Linked DNA regions of Homo sapiens: regions 1, 3, 4, 5, 6 and 7 are each reported to be linked to region 2. Evidence: microRNA targets listed by miRTarBase, many of them from high-throughput screens and not tested one by one. Region 2 holds a microRNA gene; each other region holds the end of a gene's coding sequence.

The links. The annotated mature microRNA hsa-miR-6773-3p reads ACUGUCACUUCUCUGCCCAUAG and lies in region 2 at 979-1,000, shown strand. An mRNA with a match to its seed (bases 2 to 7 or 8) in the 3' UTR can be bound and repressed. Matches are read on the target gene's strand: a 7mer-m8 pairs with bases 2 to 8, a 7mer-A1 pairs with bases 2 to 7 and ends in A, and an 8mer does both.
Region 1: the mRNA of POLQ is a reported target of hsa-miR-6773-3p. The part of its 3' UTR that is shown has no 7-base or 8-base seed match.
Region 3: miRTarBase lists KCNRG as a target of hsa-miR-6773-3p. Seed matches in the 3' UTR shown: 8mer at 513-520.
Region 4: miRTarBase lists SLC16A5 as a target of hsa-miR-6773-3p. The part of its 3' UTR that is shown has no 7-base or 8-base seed match.
Region 5: miRTarBase lists TULP4 as a target of hsa-miR-6773-3p. Seed matches in the 3' UTR shown: 7mer-m8 at 1,395-1,401.
Region 6: miRTarBase lists MED28 as a target of hsa-miR-6773-3p. The part of its 3' UTR that is shown has no 7-base or 8-base seed match.
Region 7: miRTarBase lists TEX22 as a target of hsa-miR-6773-3p. The part of its 3' UTR that is shown has no 7-base or 8-base seed match.

What each region holds. Positions count from the first base shown.
Region 1 is chr3:121,429,853-121,432,946 of GRCh38, reverse strand. It overlaps POLQ (DNA polymerase theta), which reads left to right. Exons shown (of 30, transcript NM_199420.4): 29 at 1-29; 30 at 530-1,516. The coding sequence ends at 643. Among named protein-coding and RNA genes, the nearest start is that of POLQ, 110 kb to the left of the region's middle. RefSeq lists an enhancer at 639-688.
Region 2 is chr16:68,231,332-68,234,425 of GRCh38, reverse strand. It overlaps MIR6773 (microRNA 6773), which reads left to right and starts at 927; the gene lies at 927-1,000. ESRP2 (epithelial splicing regulatory protein 2) reads left to right here. Exons shown (of 15, transcript NM_024939.3): 3 at 319-432; 4 at 544-658; 5 at 1,001-1,099; 6 at 1,611-1,665; 7 at 1,739-1,849; 8 at 1,923-2,055; 9 at 2,138-2,180; 10 at 2,323-2,624; 11 at 2,732-2,944; 12 at 3,050-3,094.
Region 3 is chr13:50,020,233-50,023,326 of GRCh38, forward strand. It overlaps KCNRG (potassium channel regulator), which reads left to right. Exons shown (of 2, transcript NM_173605.2): 2 at 1-690. The coding sequence ends at 222. The region is part of intron 10 of DLEU2 (deleted in lymphocytic leukemia 2); the gene reads right to left. Among named protein-coding and RNA genes, the nearest start is that of KCNRG, 6.3 kb to the left of the region's middle.
Region 4 is chr17:75,105,617-75,108,616 of GRCh38, forward strand. It overlaps SLC16A5 (solute carrier family 16 member 5), which reads left to right. Exons shown (of 7, transcript NM_004695.4): 7 at 264-546. The coding sequence ends at 417. Among named protein-coding and RNA genes, the nearest start is that of ARMC7, 2.9 kb to the right of the region's middle. RefSeq lists an enhancer at 1-74.
Region 5 is chr6:158,506,213-158,509,306 of GRCh38, forward strand. It overlaps TULP4 (TUB like protein 4), which reads left to right. Exons shown (of 14, transcript NM_020245.5): 14 at 366-3,094. The coding sequence ends at 482. Among named protein-coding and RNA genes, the nearest start is that of TMEM181, 52 kb to the right of the region's middle. RefSeq lists an enhancer at 273-773.
Region 6 is chr4:17,623,441-17,626,529 of GRCh38, reverse strand. It overlaps MED28 (mediator complex subunit 28), which reads right to left. Exons shown (of 4, transcript NM_025205.5): 4 at 1-2,929. The coding sequence ends at 2,732. Among named protein-coding and RNA genes, the nearest start is that of MED28, 10 kb to the right of the region's middle.
Region 7 is chr14:105,411,332-105,414,425 of GRCh38, reverse strand. It overlaps TEX22 (testis expressed 22), which reads right to left. Exons shown (of 4, transcript NM_001195082.2): 3 at 2,930-3,058; 4 at 567-2,766. The coding sequence ends at 2,593. Among named protein-coding and RNA genes, the nearest start is that of MTA1-DT, 6.9 kb to the left of the region's middle. RefSeq lists enhancers at 1,818-2,320, 2,321-2,824 and a silencer at 2,896-3,025.

The sequences.
Region 1 (3,094 bases), not on the chromosome of region 2:
ATGAAGTGGCAGAAGAAGATGTTGTTCAGGTATTTTTGCAATGCTTGTGTCCATTCCATAGGAAGACAAGACACTGTATTGTCAGGCCGACAGCTTTGTTTCCTGTGCATGAGGATTTTGGAACTCTACCCTAGCCCTGGGATGGCTGTATAAATATTGAGTCCTTACAGGTAGAAAAGGAGCTAAGAGTGTTCCGTTTTGTACTAGTTCTTAATAAGTGAAGAATTGCCAATGCAAGATGTTTTTGTCTTGGAGGAATTAAACAAAAATTTGGAGTCTTTCCCTTAGGGTTTCTAAGCTCCAAGCATTCTAGCAAAAACTTTCAGAAATTCCTGCTCATCAGTGAAGAAGAGTATGAGATGTCTTTTTATTTATTCATTTATTTATTTTATTTTTTATTTTTTCTGATTTAGCATTTTAAGCACCATTGGGTGAAGAGCTCCAGTCTGGTTTATAACTTTCTCAGGGGATGGTTTGGGAAACATTCTTTGACTGGGCAGTTTGTTAACTACATTTTTTTTTTCCTTAGGTAGCTCAGATTGTCAAGAATGAAATGGAAAGTGCTGTAAAACTGTCTGTGAAATTGAAAGTGAAAGTGAAAATAGGCGCCAGCTGGGGAGAGCTAAAGGACTTTGATGTGTAACTGTGCTGTTGATGAAGTCCTCCCAGGGAAGCCTGTGCAGATGCAGTCACCTGGAAAGAACAGAGATTACCCTTTCACCTACCTCAGCAAAACAAACTTTCAAGTCTTGATAGACTTAGCCTAGTAATTTTATAGTGAGAGTTTCAAACTATATATCAGTGTCTATAGCATCAAAAACTTCTGGGGGCGTGGGGGAAGTAGAATACCAAGTATAATAGTTACATTCACTTTCAAAGAGCATCTATGAATTTGCCTTTTGTAACTTACTGTGGCTTTAAACATATTCAGAACAGATGCTTGAAATATGCACTTAGCACTTTGGTTCCACATCTGTCTGGGTAAACCATGAAGAAAATGAAGCTGCTGCCTCAATCGACCCAGACAGCAGCCATAGGCAGATAAAGATTTGGTTTCACCCTGGTGGTGGTAGGCATCGTGTGTGACTTTTTTTCCTCTAATATCAATTTTACAGTACGGAAATAGTATTTTAAAATAGTATTGGCTAATAAATTATGAATTCTATAAAGTAGTAAGACTTGGTATGGTTGGAGTGTAGGAATGAATATTCATGAAATGTTTCTTATTGCTTTTCCTTCCCTAATTCATACAATGAATGTATTTGGAATACTTACATATTATAAAATAAACTATACCTCTTCAAGAGGTATCCTGTTCTGTAAGATCAGATGTTTTTATTGCAGGTCAATATAATACTGCCAGAGACAGAAAATACCCCCTTATCAGTCCCTTAGTGCCTCTTTCTGTTTGTGGCATGGTGAGAAAACCCATGCTGAAAAGATTGTACTTTGTGATCCCAATCAGAGGGATGGAGCTAATCTTTTTGCTGTTGAAATAAAATGAATTTATGAGAAACTTTATATCAACAATTGTTTTGTTAAAAATTATAGTTGGTCTAAGAGTGTCCCTTATTTAGTTACTCCATAGCTTGTTCATAGGAAACACTGATTATATTCTTAATCAGTTACCAGAAGAGCTCTTTTATGTTTATTAATCAGAATAATGAAAAAAGATAGTTGCTTTATAAAATGTAATGCATTATCAGTAGTTGGGTATTAATGCATAAGAGACTTAGACATAGTTTTTTTGGGGTGGCAGGGTGAGAAAGGCAGAGATGGCAGCAGTAAGAGGGAAGAATATCATTATTTCTTTTTCCATATTTACCTGTACTATGTTTCTCAGAAGCTGAAGTGCTGTCAGTATTCTGGTAGGCTTGAAAGATCTGGCACAAGAGAAAGCTCAATCTGTTTACCTGTGAGTGTTCTTCAAACATGAGGGCAAGCAAAAGTCCCTTCTGCCTCATTCTCTGCAGCCATGGCCCAGCATGTGTAGTCACATGCATTTTCTCATTCTGTTTGACCTGTCAGCTGGACCTGAAACAGGCCATCCCCATTTTGCATGATTCAGATGTGCACAAATCCCAGTTACTATGGTTTACTTAATAACATGAGTCTCCCCTGCAACACAATTCAAATTTCAGTTACCAGTGGATATTAACTGTGAGTAACTGCATGAAATTCAAACTTCACTGATAGTTCTTCAAACCACAACCACTGTGTAAATAAGAAATGCACATTGTGTTATGCAGAATAATGCCCCCCACCCCAAAGTTCACATCCTAATTCCTAAAATCTGTGAACTATTATATTACATGGCAAAAGGGACCTTGTTGATGTGATTAAGTTAGAGATCTTGAGGTGGGGGATTATCCTGGATTATCTGAATGGTTCCATTGTAATCACCAGGGTCTTTATAAGAGGGAAGCAGATGGTCAGAGTCAGGGAAGATGTGACAACAGAAACAGAGAAAGATTTGAAGATGCTACACTGCTGGCTTTAAAGTTGGAAGAAGGGGCCATGAGCCAAGGAATGCAGGAACCCTCAAAAAATTGGAAAAGGTAAGGAAATGGATTCTCTCCTAGAACCTTTTGAAGGGATGTAGCCCCGCCAACACCTTGACTCTAGCCCAGTTAAGACCATTTTGGACCTCTGTCCTTTAGAACTGCAAGACAATTATTTGAATTGTTTTGAGCTAGTAAGTTTGTGGAATTGGTAGCAGTAACAGGATATTCATACATGCATCATGATGAGGACCAGTTACATCACTTCTTCCAAAGGCTGTCTGTGATTGGCTACTTCACATCTGTTATTCACTTTACTTGCAGATGGCAAAATGTAGTTGTGTTGATTGCTTGTCTCCCAGTGGTAAATCCACATTATACAAAAATGGATAATCAAAAGTAGAAGTTGGCTAATAAAGATCAAAGTGTACCAGAGAAGTAAAAAATAACACTGGAAGTGAAATTCAAATTGAACATAAATGGAATTACAGAAGAACTACCTGCCTGGGAATGCTGACACTACTGCTGTTTGAGATACAGTAGATAGGCAACCTGAGAAACAGTAAAGGCACAATTTACATAAATGAGGAAAA
Region 2 (3,094 bases):
CCCACCTGCTTGTCCCACTCCAGGTGTTTGCTCTGGCCCCACTCCAAACTCCTGGAGTGTGTGTGTTGAGGGCTTCGGTTATATGTGATTGCCCTCATTTGGCCTGGAGGAGGTGACAGTGGACTGGAACAGGGTTGGGGGGTGAGGGGAAGGGACATAGGGCTAGGCTCAACAGGCGTGGCCTCTTATTCCCAGGCAGGATAGGGCTGAACATCTGGCTGAACCAGCTTTGCAGCCTGCCTCCTTCCTCCTACCCTCACTTCCTGCCTGCCCAGCTGTGAATCTGTGTGTTTCTCTCTCCCCATTCCCTATCCCCAGTTCTCACAGCTGGTGAACGGGGATGTGGCTTTGCTGGGCGGGGGCCCCTACATGCTCTGCACTGATGGGCAGCAGCTATTGCGACAGGTCCTGCACCCCGAGGCCTCCAGGAAGGTATGCTCCTGAAGGAAAACCGGGTGGGGTGGGGTGGTCAGTAAGGTTCCCAGAACCCCTCTTGTCCTGAGGGTGGGCAGGGCGCTCATCCTCAATCCTATGTGCCCCCAGAACCTGGTGCTCCCCGACATGTTCTTCTCCTTCTATGACCTCCGAAGAGAATTCCATATGCAGCATCCAAGCACCTGCCCTGCCAGGGACCTCACTGTGGCCACCATGGCACAGGGTATCTGTGACCCAGCAGGGTTAGGGTGGAGAAGCCACTGTGGGTACATGTGTCTGAGTATGTGCATGCTGTGGGTGGGTAATATGGACACATACAAGACTGCGTTATCTGCTAAGTCCCTGAGTGTACTGTGTCTTCGTGTCTGTGCTAGGATGAGTTTGGAATGTGGGTATGTGTCTGTCTATGTCTGGACTGGGAATCTGTATGTGCACACATGAACTGGGCCAAAACAAATGTGTATGCTGGTCTCCAGCATGTGTCTATGGAGGGGAGTTGGGCCCAGGAGTAAACAGGATTAGTGCTTATGCTAAGATGTCTTCACTGTCACTTCTCTGCCCATAGGTTTAGGACTGGAGACAGATGCCACAGAGGATGACTTTGGGGTCTGGGAAGTCAAGACAATGGTAGCTGTTATCCTCCATCTACTCAAAGAGCCCAGCAGTAAGGTTTCCCTCACTGCCTGTCACCTGTTCTCAGGGATGACAAATGCCTATTGCTCCTCCCCACTGTGACCTTCTCTAAGAGACCACGGGGGAATCCTCTTTGTCATTTCTTTTTTTTTTTTTTTTTTGAGACAGTCTCCCTCTGTAGCCTAGGCTAGAGTGCAGTGGCACAATCTCAGCTCACTGCAACCTCCACTTTCCGGGTTCAAGCGATTCTCCTGTCTAAGCCTCCAGAGTAGCTGGGATTATAGGCGCCTGCCACCATGCCCACCTAATTTTTGTATTTTTAGTAGAGATGGGGTTTCACCATGTTGGCCAGGCTGGTCTGGAACTCCTGACCTCAAATGATCCACCCACCTTGGCCTCCCAAAGTGCTGGGATTATAGGCGTGAGCCACTGTGCTCGGCCTGTCATTTCTTCATCTCTCTCAATTGTCCACTTTTTGCAGAACTTGGTGGGGACACCCCTCTCCACCAGACCCTGCTGACCCCCAGGCCATCTTTTCTCAGGTCAATTGTTTTCGAAGCCCGAGGTGATAAAGCAGAAATACGAGACGGGGCCTTGGTGAGTGTGGGAGCAGGGGCTGGGGGTGACAACAGCTGAATAGCTCTGACAGCACTGTGCCCTGCCCCTACAGCAGCAAGGCTGATGTGGTGGACAGTGAGACTGTGGTACGGGCTCGTGGGTTGCCGTGGCAGTCATCAGACCAGGACGTGGCTCGCTTCTTCAAAGGGCTCAACGTGGCCAGGTGGGTGTGGCAGGGTGGGTGGGCCCAATTGGACAGGCCTACCCAGGAGGCACTAACAGCACTGGCTCCACAGGGGTGGTGTAGCACTCTGCCTCAACGCCCAGGGCCGCAGAAATGGCGAGGCCCTCATCCGCTTTGTGGACAGCGAGCAGCGGGACCTAGCGCTGCAGAGACACAAGCACCACATGGGCGTCCGCTATATTGAGGTGGGGCTTTGGGCTGGGAGCGGAGCAGGGCCAATCTGAGTCAGGCCTGAGACCCATGGGCTGCTGCTCTCTGTACCCACAGGTGTATAAAGCGACAGGGGAGGAGTTTGTAAAGATTGCAGGGGGTGAGTATACTGCAAACAGGGCCTGGCTCCCCTGGTTCTTGATCCATTTCACTTCCCCACCACCCCTTGCCTGCCTGCTCCCCTGCATGGGTGAGTGTCTGGAGGAGCATGAGTGAAGTCAGCAGGCGACTCTCATACACAGGCACATCACTAGAGGTGGCTCGTTTCTTGTCACGGGAAGACCAAGTGATCCTGCGGCTGCGGGGACTGCCCTTCTCGGCTGGGCCAACGGACGTGCTTGGCTTCCTGGGGCCAGAGTGCCCAGTGACTGGGGGTACCGAGGGGCTGCTCTTTGTGCGCCATCCTGATGGCCGGCCGACTGGTGATGCCTTCGCCCTCTTTGCTTGTGAGGAGCTGGCACAGGCTGCACTGCGCAGGCACAAGGGCATGCTGGGTAAGCGATACATTGAACTCTTCCGGAGCACTGCAGCCGAAGTGCAGCAGGTGAGCGCCCAGGGCTCCCCACCCCCAGATGTACTGTTACTCCAGGGCGGCCCTCTGTGTCCCTGCCCTACTTGGCATGACCAGCCTGTTGCTGCCTTCCTTACTAGGTCTTGAACCGCTATGCATCCGGCCCACTCCTTCCTACACTGACTGCCCCACTGCTGCCCATCCCCTTCCCACTGGCACCTGGGACTGGGAGGGACTGTGTACGCCTCCGAGGCCTGCCCTACACGGCCACCATTGAAGACATCCTGAGCTTTCTGGGGGAGGCAGCAGCTGACATTCGGCCCCACGGTGTACACATGGTGCTCAACCAGCAGGTGAAGCCACTGCTTGGTAGGGGGAACACATAAATAGGAAGGGGTGTGTGTTAGGGGTAAGGCACTCTTACACATGACAAACTGCTCACAAGATGGTGTGCACAGGGCCGGCCATCGGGCGATGCCTTCATTCAGATGACATCAGCAGAG
Region 3 (3,094 bases), not on the chromosome of region 2:
GATAACCGAAAATTGGCCAACGGAACAAATGTCCTCGGCTTACTGATTGACACTTTATTAAAGGAAGGCTTTCATTTGGTCAGCACTAGAACAGTATCTTCTGAAGACAAAACTGAATGCTATAGCTTTGAAAGGATAAAAAGCCCTGAAGTGCTCATCACGAATGAAACACCAAAACCAGAGACTATCATCATACCAGAGCAATCTCAGATAAAGAAATGAAGTTGTCTATCCTCTTTTAAAGAGAAATTGCCATTTTTCTTGTTTCATTACGTATTTAGGGCATACATGTTAGCCAAATCTACACTCAGCCTAACTCTTGGCTTCATCTGCTGCCATGCCGTCTCTGGGCAACCAGGCCCCAACTGTGCTTAAGCCATAATGCCTGCTGCTCTCTAGACAACTCCATGTACTTGGTGCTTTGGTATATGTTCTACCTTCAATACATCTTTCCCTTTCTCTTCTTCATGAATGCTTATGAGCCGAGATTGCGCCACTGCACACTAGCTTGGGTGACAGAGGAAGACTGTCTCAAAAAAAAAAAAATTGATCAAACTGATGGATACCCTAAGTACCCTGACTTGATCATTACACCTTCTATGCATGCAACAAAATGCCACGTGTACCCCATAAATATGTAGAAATATTATATGTAAATAAATAGTTGGGCCTTCCGTATTTTCCCACTTATGTTTGTTTCAGCATTTATTTATTTATTTATTTTTTTAGACGGAGTTTCGCTCTTGTTGCCCAAGCTGGAGTGCAAAGGTGCGATCTCGGCTCACTGCAACCCCCACCTCCTGGGTACAAGTGATTCTCCTACCTCAGCCTCCCGAGTAGCTGGGATTACAGGCAGGCGAAACCGCGCCCAGCTAATTTTTGTATTTTTAGTAGAGATGGGGTTTCATCATGTTGGCCAGGATGGTCTCAATCTCTTGACCTCGTGATCAGCCCGCCTCGGCCTCCCAAAGTGCTGAGATTACAGGCGTGAGCCACCGTGCCTGGCCCCAGCATGTTTTTATCAATCACAGTTTCATTTCTGACAAGGCACCAAATATTTTATTTATTTATTTAATACTCTTTATATAATACTCTGTCACCAGGCTGGAGTGCAGGAGTTGGAAGCTGTAGTGAATTCTGGTGTAATCATAACTCATGCAGCCTCAAACTCTTGGGCTCAAGTGATCCTCCCACCTCAGTCTCCCAAGTAGCTGGGACTACAGGCGCATACCACCATGCCAGGGTAATTGTTTTTTATTTTTTGTAGAGACGAGGTCTCACATGTTGTCCAGGCTGGTCTCGAACTCCTGGCCTTAAGTGATTCTCCCACTTTGGCCTCCCAGAGCACTGGGATTACAAGTGTGAGCCACCATGCCTAGCCAAGGCACCAAGATTTTAGCTTATGATTCTTGAACCTCAATAATTTACCTTATAAGTGATTAGAAGTTCTCCCTACAAATCTTTTCTGAAAAACAGCTCTAATGCTTAATTTTACTCTTGGATTTAATATACAAGTTGTAATTACAAAGAGTTCTTAGGGTATGGTAAAGTCAAGATTAATTTAGGCTGCTTTTTTTTTTTTTTGAGACAGGGTCTCACTCTGTTACCCAGGTTGGAGTGCAGTGGTGCGATTTCAGCTCACTGCAACCTCCATCTCCCAGGCTCAAGCGATCCTCCCATCTCAGCCTCCTGAGTAGCTGGGACTACAGGCATGTGCCATCACGCCCACCTAATTTTTTGTATTTTTGGTAGAGATGGTGTTTCACCATGTTGCCTAGGCTGGCCTCGAACTCCTGACCTCAGGTGATCCGCCCGCCTCAGTCTCCCAAAGTGCTGGGATTACAGGTGTGAGCCACTATGCCTGGCCTATTTAGGTGCTTTAAAAATGTATTTGAAATCAGGAGCCTGAAGTAGTATAAAATGGTCACAAGAAAGCAGCTTGAGAAATACATGGTTTAGGAAATCAAAATCTGTTTCTAATTTGTCCTTTATACCATTTACAAGTGACAAACTTCAGCTTTGCTTTATAAACTTTTGTACTGATTCTCTATCATAAGTAATAGAAATGTTCACATCAATAGAGAATTACACCACTAGAGACTATGCTGGGGTAATAAAAGATTTGCTAAGAGCACTCAATCTCTTATATTCTACTGCTATTTTTCCTCTGTGCTAGGGAAGTTGACTGTAATGGCAAGTTTAGCAACGTAGAAGCTACCGTGAGGAAATCTTCAAAAATAAATTTATGAAATTGTATTACCTTCCTGGAACCAAAGGACCCATGGGAGACAGCAATGTGGCATCAGACTTAGCATTTTTAAACAAATGCTCAGAAATAAAGATAGGACATTTTAAAATTACTAAAAATACTTAGCTTTCTGGAATATCAATGACCTAGTAAAAAACGTAAGTACTGGGCTGGCCTGGTGGTTATAATCCCAGCATTTTGAGAGGTCAAGGCGGAAGGATCCTTGAGCCCAGGAGTTCGAGATCAGCCTGAGCAACAGTGAGACCCCCATCTGTCTATGATTTAAAAACAACATCAACAACAAAAAACCCCAAAAATCACAATTACCGGCTTTGCTGTAGAACTATATACCTCAAGACTTACTAGGATTTCTGGCTGGGTGAGGTGGCTCACGTCTGTAATCCTAGCACTCTGGGAGGCTGCGGTAGGCGGATCACCTGAGGTCAGGAGACCAGCCTGGCCAACATGGTGAAACCCCGTCTCCACCAAAAATTACAAAAATTGGCTGGGCATGGTGGCACGTGCCTGTAGTCCCCAGTTACTTGGAAGGCTGAGGCAGGAGAACTGCTTGAGTCTGGAAGGCGGAGGTTGCAGCCTCCGCCGAGATCATGCCATTGCACTCCAGCCTAGGTGACAGAGTGGGACTCTGTCTCAAAAAAAAAAAAAAAAAAAAAAGGATTTCTTTTGGGCCTATTATAAATGAAAAGTACAAATTTTATCAAAACACTTCATCATCGAAAATACCTTAATATTTAACTAAACTATGAGATCCAATCACAAAAATATTTTCATGGATAAAAAGCTAAAATCTTACATGGGTGAAAATGGAAAATGATATTACGCATG
Region 4 (3,000 bases), not on the chromosome of region 2:
CAGCCCATTCTTGTCCCAGCAGGGTACCGAGGGAATGATAAAACAGAATGTGTTTGAATTACACACAAAAATGTTCCCTGCAGCAGGTCATAAACTCTGTGAACTAATGAAGCTGACAAACAGAGCTGGAGTACGTTTCCCCTCACCCTTCCTTTCCTCCTAGCTCAGCAAGGGGTGCTCAGGTTCAGGATGTTGTTTGTTGATTCAGGCTCAACCAGGCTCCGCAAGAAAACCTTATCAGGAGATTTTATTTTCATGAACAGGTGCCAGTCTTCCCGCCAGCCACGTCCAGCTGGCGTCAATAAGCATCTTTGGGGATGTCCTGCCTCCTCCAGGACCAGCCATGAGTGGCTCTTATGGCCAAAGGCGGTACTGCAGGCCAAGCAAACGGCTCTGGGCTGGAATAGCCCTACCTGAGTGCCCTGTTTGACTCCGCCACTATCTGCCATGTGAGTTGGGCAAATTGTTGACCACCTCTGAGCCTTGAAAAAGTAGGAGGTTACTTTGTTAGAGCAAAATAATAAAATTTAATTTTAAAAAAGAAAACGTAGGAGGTTGGTTTGGATGAGCTAGTCTCTTCCGGTTGAAAAGTCTGACTCGGTGAGCATCCTGACGACTCCATTTCCTTCTGGCTCCCCACCCAGTCTTACACTTGGCTGCCATCAATACCACATGCTCTGAAGGGAGAGTGCTTGCATGGACTTTGCCAAATCCTGTCTGCTCCATCTCAGTTGAATGGAAAAGGAGGGAGGTGGGGCTGGTAGATAGGTGCTTTTGGTGCTAGTATCCACCAGGTTTTGTGTGCATCCCGTAATGAGCCCACTTCCTGAAAACATTTAAAGAAAAAAGATATCAGCTGGAGATGGCAGTGCGCACATGTAATCCCAGCTACTCGGGAGGTTGAGGTGGGAGGATCACTCAAACCTGGGAGTTTGAGGCCAGCCTGGGCAACACAGCAAGACCCTGTCTTTTTTTTAAAAAAAAAAAAAAAAAAAAGGCTGGGTGTGGTGGCTCACGCCTGTAATCCCAGCACTTTGAGAGGCCAAGATGGGTGGGTCACTAGAGGTCAGGAGTTCAAGACCAGCCTGGCCAACATGGCAAAACCCCAGCTCTACTAAAAATACAAAAATTAGCCAGGCGTGGTAGCAGTCGCCTGTAATCCCAGCTACTTGGGAGGCTGAGGCAGGAAATTTGCTTGAACTGGAGAGGAAGAGGTTGTGGTGAGCTGGGATCACGCCACTGCACTACAGCCTGGGTGATGGAATGAGACTCGTCTCAAAAAACAAACAAACAAAAAAAACACTTTGGGAGGTCAGAGCAGGAGGATCGCTTGAGACCAGGACTTCAAGACCAGCCTGGGCAACATAGAGACCCTGTCTCTACAGAAAAATTAAGGAAAGGGAAAAAAAAAAAGCCAAGTGTGGTGGATCATGCCTGTAATCCCAACACTTTGGAAGGCCAAGATGGGAGAATCACTTGAGAGGCCACCCTGGGCCACATAAGGAGACCTCCATCTCTACAAAAAATTTAAAACTTAGCTGGACATGGTGGCACAGGCCTGTAGTCCAAGCCACTCAGGAGGCAGAGGTGGGAGGATCCCTTGAGCCAAGAAGCTCAAGGTTGCAGTAAGCTGTGATCACACCACTGCACTCCAGCCTGGGTGACAGAGACCTTGTCCCCCCTTCCCAAAAAAAAAAAAGGTATCAATGAATGTTCTGCATAGGAAACTTTCATCTCACCTGCTCCTAGGCAAGAATAGCAATCATCTCTGGGCAGAATTCCTTCAATAAATATTTACTGAGTATCTACTGTGTGCCAGAGACTGGGCAGAGGTAAGACCTACCAAGGGCTGAGAATTCCACCCCAAGGAGGGCCCCTCCCTGAGGCCTTAAGAAGGGAGAAGACTGGCTGGGTGCGGTGGCTCATGCCTGTAATCCCAGCACTTTGGGAGGCTGAGACAGGTGGATCACGAGGTCAAGATATCGAGACCATCCTGGCCAACAAGGTGAAACCCCATCTCTGCTAAAAATACAAAAATTAGGCCGGGCGCAGTGGCTCACGCCTGTAATCCCAGCACTTTGGGAGGCCAAGGCGGGTGGATCACGAGGTCAGGAGATCGAGACCATCCTGGCTAACACGGTGAAACCTCGTCTCTATTAAAAATACAAACATTAGCCGGGCGTCGTGGCGGGTGCCTGTAGTCCCAGCTATTCAGGAGGCTGAGGCAGGAGAATGGCGTGAACCTGGGAGGCGGAGCTTCCAGTGAGCTGAGATCGCACCACTGCACTCCAACCCGGGTGACAGAGCGAGACACTGTCTCAGAAAAAAAATACAAAAATTAGCTGGGTGCAGTGGTGCGTGCCTGTAATCCCAGCTACTCGGGAGGCTGAGGCAGGAGAATCACTTGAATCTGAGGCGGAGGTTGTAGTGAGCCGAGATCGCACCACTGTACTCCAGCCTGGCGACAGAGCGAGACTCCATCTCAAAAAGAAAAAAAGGGAGAAGACCAATGAGGGAAGATGGGGTGGCCCATCTGATTCAGCAATCCCCATCTAGCTGATTGCCTGCGAACCTCTAGAGAAGGTCTGGGGCAGTTCCTGGGCAGGGAGGGATGGAGCTTACTTCCATCCTCCCTGTTTCTGGGCTCCTATTTGCTGCTCTGTCCAGCAAGAGGCAGAGAAACCCCTTGGGCACCTAGGGGTAAGATGCACTTCCCAGGCTGCAGAGGCTCCCAAGAGAAGCCAAAGGGCTTTGGTGAGGGTCCTGGGGCCTAGGTACCCAGACTAAGTTAGAAACTCCTGCCTCAGAGGGTGTACATAGGGCAGGGGCTGACCACAAGGACCTGAAACCTCAGAGGTGAGGCCTGCTTCCAATGGGGCTGCAGCTGGCTGGAGTGTGACGGCCACTCTGCCTTCATCCGGGCCCAGGGCTTAAGATAATGGTCCTTGCCTTTGTCAGCCTAAATAACAGAGAGGCTCTCTCAAAGAAAATGATATCTAT
Region 5 (3,094 bases), not on the chromosome of region 2:
CGCCTTGTTCTTTTTTTTTTTTTTTTTTTTTTTTTTTTGAGATGAAGTCTCCTCTGTCGCCCAGGCTGGAGTGCAGTGGCCCAATCTCAGCTCACTGCAAGCTCCACCTCCCAGGTTTACACCATTCTCCTGCCTCAGCCTCCCGAGTAGCTGGGACTACAGGCGCCCGCCACCACGCCCGGCTAATTTTTTGTATTTTTAATAGAGACGGGGTTTCACCGTGTTAGCCAGGGTGGTCTCTATCTCCTGACGTCGTGATCTGCCCACCTCGGCCTCCCAAAGTGCTGGGACTACAGGCGTGAGCCACTGCGCCTGGCCTTTTCACCTTATTCTTTAATGTCTTTGCTTCCCCTGCCCTCCTCCAGGTGATGCAGTTTGGACGGATTGATGGCAGTGCGTACATTCTAGACTTCCAGTATCCGTTCTCAGCCGTGCAGGCCTTTGCAGTTGCCCTGGCCAACGTGACTCAGCGCCTCAAATGAAGAGACTGGTGTGGGGAGGAGAGAGATGCAGAGAGCCTTTGGAAGAGGTCTTCGGAGATGCCAGAGGAGCCCTCTAGGGGTCCGATGCCTGGGAGGACCAGAAGCCAACAGCAAAACTGGAAAAGCCCGGCAGGCCCAGGAGAGGGCGCTGACCTGTGGTCGTCATTTATTTGGTTGGGTTTTATTACCTTTTATTGTCTGTTCTTCTTTTCTTCTTTCATTTCAGTGGCATTTGGAAGCAAAGAGTGCTAGGCACCTGCTGTTCTTTCAGGAAACAGCTTGGCTGTGGTAATGCTCTACTGGGCCCTTCAGAATGAAGACAGTCTGCCTTAGAGCCTGCTATTCTTTTAGACATAGGGAGGATGCATTATCCTGTATTCTCCTCCAACATCACCACTAGCGTAAAAGCAAAAAGCTTTTACAAAACACAGCCAAAAATTCTCAAGATGCAGGTTCTTGGGGAATGGGATGGGGACAGCATTTGATTTACACTGATTATGTTACTCCCCAAAAGGTGACTTAATTAATAAAGGGCATTTGGGCAGACACACTGTGTTGGACCAACAAAGTAGGCTCTTTACAGGGGTGTTCTCACCAGGTAGAAATGCGATTTGCTCACTGAGGATGTTGGGGAAGGGACGAAGGGTAAAGAAGAAACTGCACGTATACACAGGTTCACATCACTCTGCAGACAGCAATGTGACTCAGCGTGTGACTTGTAGCAGCAGTACGAGGGCTACACTCCTCTGCTGAGGATGTCTACATTGAAAGCCTCCACTAGTTTCATCGTTTGTCAAAGTTCCGTAGGATCAGTGATGGTCATTCAGCATGACTGGTTCTGGGAGAAGGTGAGAGACAAAAATGGAAAGATCCTGGCCTGTGGTAGTGGTAGCAGTTTTCTCAAATAATGTGGTGACAGTCACTAGATCCTCACATGCTGAGAAACAGCCTCTACTCTCTCTGCCCCTTTTACTTTTTAATCTGGAATGCATTACTGTAAACATGATCTTTCCCATGAGATACCATGTTCTATGCCTTCCCATTCTAAAAGTGTGGACAACGCTTGATTTGAAACCACTCCTTTTCTCCTCTTGGCTACATTAAAATTCAGTTGACTACAAATGCTTTCTATCAAATTAGAAATGTAACCAAAAAAATGTTAAGTGTTCACCAGGGTATTAAAATACAGAGGAGTATGGTCAAATCTTTGACAAAATTTTCATGATCTTCTCTAACAAAAAAAGTTGTTTATTAACTGTACAGACTGTTTACTAAGGAGCTAAACCACTGAGAAAACGTTATTAAAATTGTAATACCTAGGTAGTTGGTTGATCACAGTTTGTTAATTGTATAAAAAAAAATTACCTAGAATATCTCTTCCCACTTCCTCGTCCTCGTGAGAACCTGTGGGCAGTATTCAAGCCCTGATGACAAAACCCAGTGTTTTTTGTTGTTGTTTTTTGTTGTTGTTTTTTGTTTTTGTTTTTGTTTTTCTCAGTCTTACCTGTGATGTTGTTTAGGATCAGGCCCCTCTCCTGGGCCTGCTGTGCAGGAGCACAGGAACTATCTGCTGGCGTTGGGTTCCAAATTTGCATTTTATTTGGAAACAGACAAGTAGAAGATGCTACAGAAAAGTATTTTCAAATTTAAACGTTTTTTAATCCCCTGTTTTAGTTAAAAAATTGGAAAAGAAACCGACCCATTTTTTTCCCAGATCAAGATGACATGACATCACTCCCAATTCTCTCCAAACCCCAGAGAAATACTGACGAAGTTTTCTGATGTGGCAAAGGATATTTCCCATCTAATACCAGTTTCTCATTTATATTTAACGTATTGGACCTGATATTTTTAGTGGGTGCATTCTTCCAGAAAGAATTCAGCAATGTTATCAGAATTAATTCTTTTATATGAGTTTATGTAGCTTGATATGGTGTTTCAGTGCTTATTGGTTGTGCAATAATGGTTATAGCCTGTTAGATAATCTAAATGCAATTCCCCTGTTTTGTCGTTTAGGAGATAATTATTTATCTTGCTTTTCATAGTGTTCTTAGGAATTATTTTGTTGTTACGTTTTGGTGAGTTATACCCATTTTATTTATTTAGAAAAATAGTATCTTTGTTAACGACTTACATGGTCACAGTATATTTTGCTGCAAGAAATAAAGAGGATATGATAGAAGGTTTTTTTTTTTTTTTTTTTTTTTTTTTGAGACGGAGTCCCACTCTTGTCGCCCAACTAGAGTGTAGTGGCACAATCTCGGCTCCCCACAACCTCTGACTCCAGGGTTCAGGTGATTATTTTGCCTCAGCCTCCCAAGCAGCTGGGATTATAGACACCCGCCAACACGCCAGGCTAATGTTTTTGTATTTTTAATAGAGATGGGGTTTTGCCATGTTGGCCAGGCTGGTCTTGAACTCCTGACCTCAGGTGATCCGCCCGCCTCGGCCTCCCAAAGTGCTGGGATTACAGACGTGAGCCACCACTCCCGGCCCATAGAAGGTTTTTTGCTGGATAATTTGTAACTTTTCTAATTGGGAAAAAATTCCTATTAATCACTTAAAAATTTTTTTTTGTATTTTGTGTTATTGATTATATACAAAGGAGACTT
Region 6 (3,089 bases), not on the chromosome of region 2:
CCAAGACAACCTTGGCTTCTTAAGAACACCCTGGAACCACAGGTGGGTGGGCTGTTATCAACACACTGACCAGGGAAGAGGGGTGTGAAAACTCACTTCAAATCCTGCTTCTGCCAAAGGTTAAAGACTAACCTCTTGACTTTGGGCAAATCACTTAACCCACCTAAATCCCATACTCTTCCTCCATAACCCTCCTCTTCCCGAACAACAGAAATCACTAACACCTGAAGAATACTTGCTACATTCTAGCACCCTTGCTGACTTCCCATTCAACATCTCCTTTTTCTTTTTTGAGACGGAGTTTCACTCTTGTAGCCCAGGATGGAGTGCAATGGCACGATCTTGGCTCATCACAACCTCTGCCTCCCAGGTTCAAGCGATTCTCCTGCCTCAGCCCCCCAAAGTGCTGGGATTACAGGCGTGAGCCACTGCACCTGGCCTCAACATCTCCTTTAATCTGCAGAAGTAATCCTGGGGAATAGGTCCTAGTCTTATCCCTATTTTACAGATTTATTATCCATCTGTGAAAATGGGAAAAACAATATTGATTCTGTTATAAGGCTTCTAGAAGACTGAATGGGATCATTTACAAAATGTGTGTGGCACAGATGTTTGTTTCAAAGTTGAAAGCCTGAAGCCTGTGGGCAGACCTAAGGTCAAGCACCAAGCCAGACCAGAACGTACCCCTGGACAATCACAGCAGGAGTCTCTTCCAAGACATAATACTCCACTCCCCAGTACCAGAGCAGTGCTTGGCAGAGGGCATTCCACAGGTTTCTAGGGGAACTTGAGAAGATGGCTTGTGATTTTCTCCCTGAAAAAGTTAGCAGCTCAGAGGGTTTCTTAGAGGATTATTCATCACCCAGTAAGATGTCTACAAACAGAGAAGATTGAAAAATTGTTATTTGGCAAAAAAACTTCTGAATTTAATAAAGAAATGGCAACAACTGGTACGTACAGTAATTCAAAATCTTTTCACTAAGCACCAAATAGGATAGTTCTCAATCTTCTCAAGAACCTCTTTGAAAGAACGCCTAAAACCTAATCAGTTTATTTAGGTTTTTAGTCAAGAAATACAAAGCTGCCAATCAGAGTTTCTAATTACCATGAGTGACCAGGTTAGCAACCTTGAGGTCATACCACATGAGCTTTTAAAAGCTTTGTTTAACCTATACGTTGTAACTGAGGGGATTTGTTGATGTCAGGCTGGTAATCAGAGATCCATGTGCCAGATACCATATACACACACCAAAAAGATACAGATTATATGGTCCTTATATATTTAAGGAGAATAATGTCTAATTCTCATGGGTGTAGAATTAGTGAGGGGCAGAGAGACAGATACAAAGCACTAACCCACCAGGGAGAACCTAGCGAGGGCAACAGAAGAGATCAAAGTCCTGTGCCCTGGGGATGCAACTGAATGGGTGCTGGGAGGCTTCAGGGATCAGGCACATGAGTGGATGTCAGTCCATGTGGGAAGGGGCCTTCAAGGCTGAAGACAACAAAATGAGTCAAGGCACAAAGCCACAGGAGTACTGCCAATCAGAAGACAGTGAAGCATTTGTTCTGGGTAAAGGGATGTGATCTAATAAGATATAAAACTCAGAAAACCTTACCCAATGAGAGCCAGAAATCTCCATTTCTTAACAGCAACTCAACAGGGAATCTGAGGCTGCCCACAAAACTAACGAGAGCAAAATACCCTCCCAAAGGCAGGGCACCACATGCTCTCTGTGGAGGCTCAGTAGCCAATGATCACCCTGCAGCCCCTCCCCACCCCCACCACGACACTCTAGTCCCTTGGAGTCAAATCCACTGGCAACAACCTTCCTTAACGGAAAATGTTTCCCCTCCCAAAATGTAGAACAAAAATGATACACGCAAACAAAACTCAAAACAGAAAGAGACAATCAGAGCAAGATTTAGCCCCTCACAGCTCACCTATGACCCCACTGTCATGCTACTGAAAACAGTGACTGACCCATTAAACAGATTCATTACTGCAGAATGTAATGAATGTTAGCGTATCACTGCTCCCACTATATCCTTCTATGTCAAAAAAAAAAAGTAAACACCACATAAAATATAAACATACCCCAAACAGAAGTCAGCATCAACCTAAGGATCCTACTGTAAGATTACTATACTAACCCAGGACAGTTCCATCGTCTTCTGACCTATTTACAAAAAAATCCTCATTCTGAGAGCTCTGGAAACATTACAAATATTGTATTAGATTCCTCTTCTTGAGGTAGTTCAAAGTCTTAAAACAGAGCAAATTTACATACTTTTCTACACACCACCGCGGGGTAATTATCATAAGGCCTACGACTAAAACTCCCATCTCCTGATTCTCAGGCTACTATACTCTTTTCCTTCGGATCAAACTACAGGAAACACACATAAAAAGATGAAAAGTCATGCAAAAATTTAAAACAAGCAAAGCCACCATAAAAAAGAATCTGTGTCATCATATTCACAGTCTAAACTTTGCTAAAGACAAAAAAAAAATACTTACTTGGTTTATCCAAGCTACAGACATGTTATAAAGTACTCAAGAAATTAACAGCTTATAAAAATAGTGGAAAATTTTTCAATGGGAGCATAAAACTAAAATGAACTCATTATCTGGCAAAGAGTTCTTCCAAAATGTCAAGTCCACAGGAAGGAATGTGTGGCCAACCTCACGCATCAGCCCACTCATAGGCCAACTGCCTCTGCCCTTTGCTCACGTTGGCTTCAGAGGTGCAGGGATGTTGGCAGATGCCTGCTCCAGGTAGGCCAAGGAGCCCTGAGGGATGTCGGCGGGCTTTTTGTGCTGCACGTTGATGTCCTCCAGCACCTGCTGCCAATGCCTCAGCTTTGTCAAGTGCTTCTGGACTAGTGCATCTTTCCGCTGTAATTCATTCCTTAGTTCTGACACATCCTGCAGATGAAAGTCATGGACTAAGTCAGAGCAAATGCAGGAAAAACACATACGGTTCTGGTTAGTTAAGAGGCTAACAATTCAAAACAAAGAGAATCCATTAAACCATATTAAGCCCATTACTCTGCTTGGCTCCACTATTTGATTAACCCAGATGACA
Region 7 (3,094 bases), not on the chromosome of region 2:
GCAGGAGGGAGGCAATGGAGAGGTGGGCAGAGAAGGGCAGGGCAGAGAGGGGCTCGGCCGCTCCGAAGGAGGCCACAACTACCAGCCAAGGAATGCAGGTGGCTTCTTGAGGCTAGAAAAAGGGAAACAGGGTCTCCCCTGGCACCTCCAGAAGGAACAGAACTCTGCCAACCCCTCATTCTGAGCCCAAAGATACCCATTTTGAACTTCTACAAAACTTAGCTAATACATTTGTGTTGTTTTAAAACACTCAAAGCCAGGCACCAGTGGAACACTCATGTAACCCCAGCTACTCAGGAGGCCGAGGCAAGAGGATTGCTTGGGTCAAGGAGTTCAAGACCAGCCTGAGCAACATACCAAGACTGTTTCTCTATAAAAACTTACAAAAAAAAAAATAAAGGCCGGGTGTGGTGGGATGCACCTGCAGTCCCAGCTACCCAGGAGGCCAAAGTCGGGGGATCACTTGAGTCCAATAGTTCAAGACCAGCCTGGGCAACATAGCAAGCCTGCCCCCCGCTCCGCCCCAACCACCAAAAAAAGAAAAAAGAAAAAGAAACCAAACCTACTGAATTTGTGGCAATTTTTATGGCAGCTACAGAAAACTAGTACACAAATCCCAGTTGTGACAACCTAAGCGGTCTCCAGGCACTGCCCCTGTCCCGGCACCACCTCTGTTGGAGAGGCCTGTGCCTCTCAGTGCCAATACCCTGCTGCCAGCTGGCCCTGTGGCCACCTTACCCACCAGGAGACTGGCTCTGGGCCTCAGCCTGAAGGAGGCCAGGGTTTTGTCTCTGCTGCCACCATGGGGGAGGTGCTCTGTAGGGAGACCTCATGGAGCAGAGAGGGCAACCATCCCAGCATCACCAGCATCCTGGACCACCACGCTCTGACTGCAGCCTCAGGAGACACTCAAACGAGAGCAGGAGAGCTGGCAGGATGAGCCCAGCCAACCCCCAAGTCACAGAACAACGAGTGGTTCTTTAAAGCCACTCAGCAACAGAGGACTGCCCAGCTCATCACCCCCATGGCAACTGCTTACCTGTCAGCTCCGCTCTGCCCTGTTTACACCTGGGGATGCCTGCCTGGCATGCAGCTGGGCCCATAGGATCCCATTCCCCACATCATCATCAGGGGCCTCAGAGGGGGTGGGTCATGACCCAAAACTCCCCACACCCTTAAGGACAGTGCCCTGCCCAAAACTCCCCACACCCTTAAGGACACCTGCCCTAGCCCCTGGAGGATCTGCCCTCCATCCACCTACCCTAGGGCTCCTGAGAAATGCAGAGGATCCCTAGGGTGCACCAAATGACATTCAGAGGACTTGGGAGAGAAGGGGAGCACCTGGCTGTGTAATCTTGGAAGGCTTCCTGAAGGAGGAGGGAACTTCACTGAGTCTTACAGTAAGAAGGGGAGACAGGCAGGTGCAGAGGATTCAACTCGGGCCAGGGATCCTGTGTCAGGGCAGCAGGTGGCTGGCAGTGCAGTCAGGTGGCTTCTCAGCAGCGGGAAGGGGAGGGTTACAGGCCAGGTGGGCAGCACAGCCAGCATGTAGTGTATCTGGTGGTCCAGGCCACCGCACAGGTCCAGCTCCTGCCCTCACCTGGAGCCCAGGAGTGATCACCTCCGCTTGCCCCAAAGCCTCCTCCACCTAGCCACCTCCACAGAAGCCCAGTCAGGCCCCTAACAGTCAGTCACAGAGTTCAGGGCCCTTTCCCCACCCCCACCCACCCCGGGCTGGGAACCCATGCTCACAGCTCTCCTGCCCCGCCTCCCAATCCAGTCCCCCTGCAACTTAGTGTCCCCAAAATGCAGCTGGGACACGTTACCCCGGCTCAGCACCCTTCCGAGGGCCCTGCAGCCTGGAAACGAGGCAGTCACCCAGTGGACCATGTCCCACAGGCCCCTGCGGCAGCCAGCTCCTCACAGTTGCTCAGACCCCCTGCGCAGGATACCCTCTTGGCCCTCGTCCACCACCAGCATCGCTGTCCAGAGGCCAGGAGGCATCTCTGCCTCCAGACAGCCTCCCTCTGTGCTGGGCACTGCATTGGGTCCCTGGGCTTGCTGCTCCCCACCACAGCACCCCTGGGGTCCCGTGTGCCCTTCTGGGTCTTCAGAGGCAGGACCCAATGTGAGACCCCGCCCCCTGGAGAACTCTGCCTGGCCCATCTCACAGCCTGGTGCAGGCAGATACCCAGTTCCCCAGACCAGGCCAGCCAAGGAGCTGAGTCTCCAGGCAGCGCCTGCCACTGGGGCTTCCCAGGACACCAGTGCACCTCAGGCAGGCCCAGGTACCCCAGGCCTCCTCCCAGCGGCCCCGAGGGCAAGCTCCTGCTACCCAGGCCTTGCCAGGGCCCTCTCAGACTGACCCGGGGCAGTGTTCCCCTCCCCTAGATGGCCTCCCATAGCCCCTAGCCCGGTCTCCAAGGCCTCAGCAGCTGCAGGCTGTCCGGAGCCAGGTCCTGCCTGGCCTGTTTTCCTAACATGGGTGGGTGGTGACCCCCTGGTGGGGCACAAAGAAGGCGCAGAGGCTGCCCCCACCGTGGGCCCCCAAGGAAAGGCACTGGAAGACAGACAATGGGCTGAATGGGGCTCTTAGGAAGGGGGTGACCTCGAGGCCTCGAAAGTCGCATTATGCCAGAAAGGCGCACTGCGCGCCAGGAAGGCCTGGAAGGCGTTGGTGGACTCGGTGGACCTCAGCGGGTGGGGAAGGAGCACGTCCTTGTCCACGTCCTCCGACACCAGCTGGGCTACCATCTGCACGACGTCCTGCGGGCGAGGGTGGTCAGGGAGCCTCGAGGGGCGGGAAGGGGACAACGGCGGGGCCCGGGAGCGCCGGGGTAAAGGGCCCAGTGGGACTGAGTCGAGGGAGGCGAGGCGGAGGGGCGGGGCGGGGCGGGGACGGGGCGGGGAGGACCCGCCCCCCGCGCACCCTGCAGTGCAGCTGGGTCCCGGCGGCGCCCGGCCTCTCCCGGCCGCCCAGCGTGGCCAGCCGCCGGCGCTCGTCGATGCTGACGCTCCAGCGGCGGCCCGGGCGCCTGCGTTCCGGCGGCTCGCACACCTGGGGGACAGGGCAGCGGGTCGGCGAGGGCCTCGG